3 separate regions of the Homo sapiens genome follow, and all the other regions are linked to region 3. The links come from fine-mapping of genetic effects on plasma protein levels. A gene starts in region 3. Each other region holds a variant in brackets. All regions are shown on one strand. Distances are between the middles of the regions. Region 1 overlaps SERPINE2 (serpin family E member 2). Region 2 holds the start of LOC124907990 (a long non-coding RNA gene). Region 3 holds the start of SERPINE2 (serpin family E member 2).

Region 1 (2,757 bases), 14 kb after region 3:
ATGCCAAGCCCTTCATGCAGAGAAGTGACTTAAGTGTCAGTTACTACTTTGTGCCAGAGGTAAATCTCTCTGCAGAGGGAAATGTTGGCACATAGCTGGTAAACACCAGTGTCTAGGTAGCCCTCCTGGGCACAACCGTCCTCATTTTTTCTTTTACTTGACTCTCCACTAAATCCTTTTTGCCCGAAACTTTGTAGAATTGGTATTTATTGATTTGTACCAGCTAAGAGTTGGCTATTTAGTCTCTGACGTGCTCTTTATGGCTGAAGAAAAACAGGTAACTCCTTCACAGAGGAGAGATTAATTCCCTAGAAAGGAAGACAAAAGTTTTCATGGACAACTTTGGAAAGGTGTGAAGCATTAAATATCTATGACAGCAAGACACGGGAATACACAAGCCTGTGTTAAGGCCTGATCCCTTCTGGGCCAGGCACATAAGCTGAAAATGGTACCTGAGCAATTTCTGAGTATGTCACGAAAAGGCACTGAAATACAGAAGTTTCTCTATGGAAAAGAGTGTCCCGGCTTGGAAACTGTGTCTGAAGCAAAAAATTTCCTCAAAATTGTTCTTCAGAAAGGGAGTTGCCGTCTAGTAGGGTCCTTACAAAATCATTAAGAGTTCGCAAAAAAACTAGATAGATGAGATCCATGAGTGACTGGCTGAGAACAGATGGGGAAGGCAAATTCGCCTGAAATTCTCTCAGTCAATGCATATTATGAATGCTTATCGAGGTTGCTTCATGAAAAGGGGTTAAATTTTAAAAAAGAGAGGCAAAGAAATTGAATACAGATTTAGTACTTGTTCTTGAGGTTATAACTTCAGAGTTGCCAGATATTGAACGTTGAATTAGTTAAGGTAGTGCTAGTTGTTGTAACAAATAAACCCAAATATGTACCGTGACTCAAACATGATGGAAGATTATTTTCCACTTGTATAAAGCCCGAAGTGGGCGTGTTTATGTGAAACCTGGTGATTTGGCGACCCAGCCTCTTCCTGTCTGTGGTTCCACTTTATTTAACAGGCAGCTGCTAAGGTCACGTACTTGTCAGCATTGAACTGGCGGAAGCAGAAAGATCATG[G/A]AGGACTGCATATGGGAGATTTTGATAGGCTAGGCCTGGGAGTGGAATGTGTCACTTCTCCTATTTCATTAAGAACAGTTCAGCCTTATGGTCACGCCCACCTACCTTGAAGGCTAGGAAATGTAGCCCAGCTCTGCGGTTGGCAAGAAGAGGAAATGGGTTTCCTGAAGAGCTAGCTGCCCTCTGTCATTTGAAATTTTATTAAGACCATTGAAGGTCACTTTAAAAGTAACACGATCACTAATATGCTGTGTGGATCGTCAATATATTTTTGCCTCTGAGGGCAACTTTCTTGGTCACTCTGAAGGGCTTCTGATGGCCTAGGGTAGGTGTTTCAGTGGCAGTGTTGCACATCGTTTTGAAAAGTGCTGTGTGATAGGCAACTTGGAAGGTAAGGAGGTGCTGTGCTTAGAAGAATGGTTACACAACTCACAAATTGAGGACAGGCATGTGGACACTACCTGGGAAGACTGTGAGCTAAATTGCTTCATGGAAGGTGGACATGGAATGAAAAGTACTATTTCTAACTCATAGGGTATGTGATTTCATGTGAGTCATAAAGTTTATTTGGGCAGATTGACCAAAATTTGTAGGGGGTAGGGATTTTCTCATTGGGAAAAGAAGAGGGCTGTCTTATCTGGGGGATGCCCTATATCCAAGCATGCATGGGAATTAGAAGTTAATCAAAGAAATAAAGAATTAACGCTGGAGGAGGGGAGCCTCACTCTTGCAATGTGGGAGAAGTTGGTCAGATGTGCTGGAAACACACTTATACATCTGGGAGGAAAAAGAGAGGTGAAAGCTGGGGAATGGGGTTAGTGCCAATCCTGCACTCTGAGGGAATGAAAAGAGACCCAGGGGACTGGGCAAGGGGCGGGCAGGTGACCTGTCCCTGGGAGAAGCCCTTGGCCGTGCCAGTCTTGTGGTGGGTACCCCCGTGTGCTCTCTTTTTTTTCTGTGTGATGTGGGCAGGTTCCCCAACCTCTCTGCATCTCTGTGTGTAAGAGTCTGTGAAATGATGTGTTCACAGAGCTGTGCACATAGTAGGGGCTTTATGAAAGTTTCTTCCCCCATCTTCTGTGCAGCTACTCACCAGCCCCATTGTTGGGGATCATTGTCTCCATAATTGGCTGTGAGTAACTGGGGAGATGTTCTCCCCTATAAAATGCAACTTCATGACAAAAAGAAGCTCAGCCCCCTTCATCCCTAAAGATTCGTTGGTGCAGTTTCTTATACCAGAGGTTAGATAAAGCTGAGAAGGAGAACTTCCATTGTCATTGACTTTTAATTCTAGAAGTCCCTGTTCTCCTATCTTAGCTTTGGATGTTGGCAGCAGGGCAGCAGGCGGGTCTTGTGAAGAAAAGTTCTGTGGAACCTAAGAGTTATTGACTTGTTCTTCAGCATCTTCGCGTAATCCTCATAGCAGCTCTCTGAAGTTCATTGGTGGGGAAGGAGGCTTATCACTGATCTTATAGATGAGGAAACTGAGTTGCAGATCAGGTATGTGACTTACCCATTGCAGGCAGGCCCAGGACTAGACAACAGGCCTGTTCCACAGTAGTGTTAAATGGGCATAGGTTTCTTCTGGGAAATAGCAAACGTCCCCTGGCCCTTAAATCCCTTCACAAGGCATTAGCATCAACTGTAGCAAAGGAAATGGAGTCAGGTTACAGGACG
Region 2 (2,757 bases), 30 kb after region 3:
TGTATTTTTACCAATACTAAAAACATGGTCATGAACTATGTGTAATATTTTTTATGTCTAAAAAAGGTACTTCCATGTCTCTTGCTGAAGAGAGAAATTAAAAAGGTACTTCCTTGTTTTTAAAGATTGAGAACCATTGGTCAATGTCACTATAATGTCTTGGGTCACCTCTTGGTTGCTGGATTAGGAAATCAGCCATTTGGACCATTACGTCTTAAAGACATATCAAAAAGAAAAGTCTATAGGACTTGATACATAGGTAAACCAGATTTAATGATCTGAGTCAGCAGACCGAAAAACATATCTCAGCACTATTAAAGGTTTTCTGGGACATACTCACCCCTCCCCCTCCATTCCCACAGTAATGGACCCCTCAGTTCTCTTACAGAGACGGCAAAACGCACCAGCATTGTCTTAATTTATTTCTGAGTCTTAAATAGTCTAAGGAAGTTATAAAGATACAGACAAGGCTTTATCAAGGTAGCAGTGTTTGACTGTTTTCTTAGCTTGATCCTTGAGACTTTCTAAATGGTTGCTGAAATACAAATCAGAGTATTTCAGGTCTTGAGCATTGAAGAGGACCAGAAGAAGAGAGCCAGCATTTACTGAACACTTGCTCTGAGCCAGGTATTAGGCTGGTTACTATGTCTTTCAGTTTGCACCTATTGAATTTCCATGGCCACCCTTGAGATATGATTTCTAATATGGCAGAGGACAAAGCTAAGACGGATGAAGATTGTGACTTGCCTTGGATCTCTTGGTTAATGGGTAGTAGGATTGGAATTTGAACTTTAGGTGAATTTTCCCGGAAACTTAGAGGAAAATAGAATGAATATCCTGTAATCTTGAATTTTAAAAGACAGACTGCTAACAAAGCTCTAATCCCCTCCTTCCCCCTAGCCTTTTCCCATCAACCCAAAGAGATTTCAGAATGGATAATATATGGATAAAAGGCACTTGATGTCAGAGTGTACTTTATAATAAAATATGTGTCTTTTCATTGAAGGGACCATTTGGATGTTGCTGCCATACTTTTCAGCGGCTGAAAAGGTATTTCCTAAACATTTTTAGGTTCCTTTTTGGCCAAATTAATTAGTGTCATAGAATGAGCATACACTTTGAAGGCAGACAAAAATTTAAGAAAAAATTCAGATGTCTCTAAGTCTTTCTCCACTAACCTGAAAAACACATTTTAAAACTACCAAGCTGCTGTCCCCTTGATAAGTTGGCATTTC[C/T]TGTTTGTTCTCTAAATTTTAAAGATGCTGAGTCATTTTGCTAGTACTTAGTACACTTCCCAAGGATAACCAAGATGTACTTTAGTTTGCTTGTTCACCTGATTTGGTATCATAAGAAAATGTGGTAGATGTTTGGAAAATGAATACAGGTCTTGGTGGACATTATTTCAGTAATGCTTATACAGATTTGAGAGACAGAGACCATATGTGAGGCTTAACCCCGATTACTTGTACATTAACAATTACTGTCATCTTACAGAGACAGCCTTAATCTCCATGGCTCACCTCCTGAAGAGTTTCTAGAATGCCTCTTGCCAAACACCGTTGAGTGTTGGCAAAGTACTGATGAGAAATGTTTGGTCTGAATGCTGGACAGCACGATTTTACTTAAGGCCATTCAGAAGTCTCAGTTTGGCAGCCACAAACCTTGCCTGTACATTTGTTTTGTTGTTGTTTTTTTTTTGAGACAGAGTCTCACTCTGTCACCTGGGCTGGAGTGCAGTAGCACAATCTCGGCTCACTGCAGCCTCCACCTCCTGGGTTCAAGCGATTCCCACACCTCAGCCTCTGGAGTAGCTGGGATTATAGGCATGTGCTACCACACCCAGCTGATTTTTGTATTTCTAATAGAGACAGGGTTAAGCCATGTTGGCCAGGCTGGTTTCGAACTCCTGGCCTCAAGCACTCTGCCCACCTCGGCCTTCCAAAGTGCTGGGGTTACGGGCTTGAGCCACCGTGCCCGGCCTGTACATTTATTTCTTTGGGAAGCCCTGGCAGGAAAAGCTGTTGAGAGATGTCATGATTCGGACAAAACATACCTGCTGTTTTTCTCTACCTGCTGTAGCCCCTGTAGATTAATAAGGGGCCTTAGGTTCCAAGAACCAGGATCCTAGCAACACAGAGACTAGAAGGATGGCGAGACTTTCCCAGTGCCTGAGAAGGTGTCAGCTTTCACTGAGGGGCGGGGAGGGGAGAGGCTGAGATAAATCCGGGGACTCACCTTGCCGTGCTGTGTGTCGGTTGTTTGTCGCTGGCATCTGCACTGTTAGGATTCCATTTTTAGGCTGGGCTTGATTCAGGAGGCTCGCTGCTGTCACACGAGGGCAATCCACTTTGATTCTCCCAGCCCAGCTTTTAATGCCCAGCAGACTCCTTTATCTTGTCATCATCCAGCGAGCCTCCCTCGGTCTAGATGGCCATGGGAGGCAAACCCGTTCAGTGTCAGCAGCTGGTCTTTCATAATTTGATTTTCCAGTGATGTTTGAGCCATCGGTGTGAAACAGTCACCAGTCTGGCTCTCATAATTTGAATTTCAGTATTTGGATATATTCCAGAGAGTGGTGTAAATGGACTTTGGATTTTCCTTATCACTGTTGCTCAGCATTTCCACAGTTTAAAACATTTAGGGTTTATTAGATAAGGGTGCTCAGTGCTACTGTTTCTCACTAAAAGGAACCAGAGCTCCCTGGAGAAGTGGCTGATTCCATCTGGAACAGAAGATGTATAAAATGAGCCTAAACAT
Region 3 (2,757 bases):
CTCCAGCCCACACCGCCCTGACTGGACCAAGCACAATACTGTCACTGAAACAGTTCTTAGCATGTCTAAAAGTCACTTGGCTAGTAGTTCATCCACTCGTCAACAAAATTTATTGAGTAACTGCTATATGTGTGGTATGGCTCTAGGCACTAGGGATAGAGTGAGTTGGAAACAATATTGAAATTAGTTTCTCTTCCCTGGTCTCTGGGAGTATATTCCAATGAGAGAGAGTAGAAGAAAACTAGCAAGAAACAAGGTAAAAAAAAAATCAATTCATGATGAGGGTTATGAAGGAAGTCATAGGTTAGAGGGGATAAAGTGACTTTATCTCAAGTGGTCAGGGGAGGCTTCCTAGGGGAGAGGACATTTGAGTTGTGACCTCAAGTGTAAGGATGCAGACAACATAGAAGATCCTGGGACAAAAAGCATTTCAGGCACAGAGAATAAGAAAGTTACCCTGTAACTGAATATAAATATTTGGTATGACTGTAAAATAATTAAACAGATGCTCATTTTTGTAGACTGTTTGCTCCTTATTTTAGGACCAAGCCTCCCATAGCCTGTTTCCCTCTATGAGAGACTGAGAACACCCTTAGGCTGGTCCAGATTTTACACTTTTCAGAGCAACCCCTTCCCCAACACACACGTGCACACTCTGGCACGGCCACCTGCATGCCAAGGGGTGACTGCAGGCTGATCTTCCAAGTGGCTCTCATCAGTAGCTGTACCCTTAATCCAGGGCTGTGTATAGGGAGATTTACATTTCTTCCTCGCTGTTGGGGCCGTCTGCCTGCTAGCGACGATTCTACACTAACGGCTACATAAATTACTGTCATTAAAGTTGGGTCCTTGGGTCCCCAGAAACCTAACTAGAGGCAAAGGAGGAACCAACTAAGAGAGGTCCAGGTAACAGAGCCCGGAGCGGGACGGTCATTTGTTGCAGGCCCCTGGGGTATGTGCCTGTCTATCGCGCACCGGGTCCCAGCAGCAGTGGTTACCGGCTGAGAAGGGCTGGGTTCCCAGGACGCTGCGGGTACCTCATGCTATCACCATAGCCGGGAATCCAGTTTTCTGGTTCCCCTCGTCTGTATTTGCCTAAGGCGACTTGCCGCCGTTCCTCTGTCCCCTAGGCAGGGAGAAGTCAGCTCTAGGACACCCTGCAAAACGCCTCGAGGGGTTATCTGCCCCTTCCCGGCCGCGTCCTGGCACCGTTTCCCCATCACCCGGAGGACTGAGCGCTGTCTCAGGGCGCCCTCTGTCTCTTCCAGGGGGCAGCCAAGACGACATGCCCTGCGTCTCAGGGACGCGGTACGAGCCCTGGTATTCCCCCCGCCACCTCACACACCCCCATCCGGGAGACCCACGTGCAGCTGGGCCCGGGCTGGCGCCGCACCTCGGGGTCTGCGCGTCTCCCCGGCGCGTTCCGGGCGCAGCCCCACGACACGGACCCCTGGCGGGGCGGCATCCGAGAAGTCGCAGGCGGAGAGGGGGCGTCCTGGAGGCCGGGCGCGGGGACGCTGCGGCCCGCGGCCACACAAAGGAGGCGGCGGGAAGGCGGGGCAAGGCGGGCCGGGGGCGGGGGCGGCAGGAAGGGGCGGGGGCCCGCGCGGCGCCGCCGATAAAGCCCCCGCCGCCGCGGCAGCCAGCTTGCGCTGTGGGGCTGCCCGGGCTGCGCGGCGTCTGCAGGCGCCACCGCTGCCTCTTTCCGGCTGTGACCCTCCTCGCCGCCGCCGCTTGGCTGCGTCCTCCGACTCCCCGCGCCGCCGAGACCAGGCTCCCGCTCCGGTTGCGGCCGCACCGCCCTCCGCGGCCGCCCCCTGGGGATCCAGCGAGCGCGGTGAGTACAGGCTGCGCGGTGAGTCCCGGGCGCGGCCGGCGCTGCCCTCGGCGGGGGACGCTCCCCGGGGCTCCGCGCGCCACCGGCCCTGCTCCCTGACCTTGCGCCCGGCCGGGAAGCTGCGGGGCCAGCGGGACCCTGGGGCGCCGACGTCGGGGAGCAGAGAACTTTCTCAGCCTCCCGCGGGCCGCCTTGGCCGGGGCTGGGTGCTCGCCGGGCATCCCGGTCCCGCCCGCCGGGAGCCCCGAGCGGGACCCGGGCAGGGCAAGGCGGGGCCGCCCCGGGGTGGCGTCCAGTGATACCCGCAGCTGGGAGCACCGGGGCCGGCGTGGCTCCTGCCCGGCCATCCGAGCCGGCCCTGACCCTGAACCTGAGGTTTCCAGCTGCTCGCCGGCAACCCCTACCCCGGACTTAGGCTGCGCGCCGCCGGATGGGGAGAGACTGGCGCACTCTTACTTGTTACCTCTGCCTGGGCAGAGGGAGGTGACGCGCGGTGTGGGGAAAGCCTTTAACTTGGCCTCTGGCAGCCGATTTAACCCGAGCGAGCAGGTCTTTGCTATTTTCATCATCTGTAGAAACGGGAGTTGCGAGGCGGATGAGTGACTGCAGGTAAAATGAAAGTACGGTACTCAGAAATTCTGGAAGGAATTAGGCATTTAATGTGTCCACAAACTGAGCGGGGAAGGAAGGCTTCTATTACATAAGACAGCACTCCACCTTCAGGTATTATGGAAGATGCTGTTGAAGGTTTTAGTGTTTTAATGAACGAAACACATTCTTTGTGTGTGTGTCTCTGGAGAAATCTCGAATGCTGCTGTCTTGCTTTGGCTACTTTGCAGGGGACGTTCTTATATTTAGCATCAGCATAAAAAGGTGTTCGAAGGTGTGACTTCCTCTTTCAAGCCAAGAAGCCGTTTATT

Evidence for each region. A credible set is the group of variants that fine-mapping cannot tell apart. PIP is the chance, under the fine-mapping model, that this variant and not a neighbour inherited with it causes the effect. The UK Biobank Pharma Proteomics Project read protein levels with antibody pairs (Olink). The fine-mapping took linkage between variants from a reference panel, not from the people measured, so its PIPs are less certain.
Region 1: its variant is the best candidate, but not a certain one, in a credible set for the plasma level of the SERPINE2 protein (UK Biobank, PIP 0.83).
Region 2: its variant is the best candidate, but not a certain one, in a credible set for the plasma level of the SERPINE2 protein (UK Biobank, PIP 0.81).

The regions. Positions count from the first base shown.
Region 1 is chr2:224,024,416-224,027,172 of GRCh38, reverse strand. All of the region lies in intron 1 of SERPINE2 (serpin family E member 2), which reads left to right. Among named protein-coding and RNA genes, the nearest start is that of SERPINE2, 13 kb to the left of the region's middle. RefSeq lists enhancers at 1-490, 882-931, 992-1,051. The variant G/A (reference allele first, on the strand shown) is at 1,081.
Region 2 is chr2:224,008,636-224,011,392 of GRCh38, reverse strand. The region is part of intron 1 of SERPINE2 (serpin family E member 2); the gene reads left to right. It overlaps LOC124907990 (a long non-coding RNA gene), which reads right to left and starts at 2,516. Exons shown (of 2, transcript XR_007088102.1): 1 at 2,236-2,516. RefSeq lists enhancers at 1,396-1,971, 896-2,095. The variant C/T (reference allele first, on the strand shown) is at 1,236.
Region 3 is chr2:224,038,179-224,040,935 of GRCh38, reverse strand. SERPINE2 (serpin family E member 2) reads left to right here and starts at 1,650. Exons shown (of 9, transcript NM_001136528.2): 1 at 1,650-1,837. LOC124907991 (a long non-coding RNA gene) reads right to left here and starts at 1,534. Exons shown (of 2, transcript XR_007088103.1): 1 at 1,394-1,534. RefSeq lists a silencer at 1,190-1,484.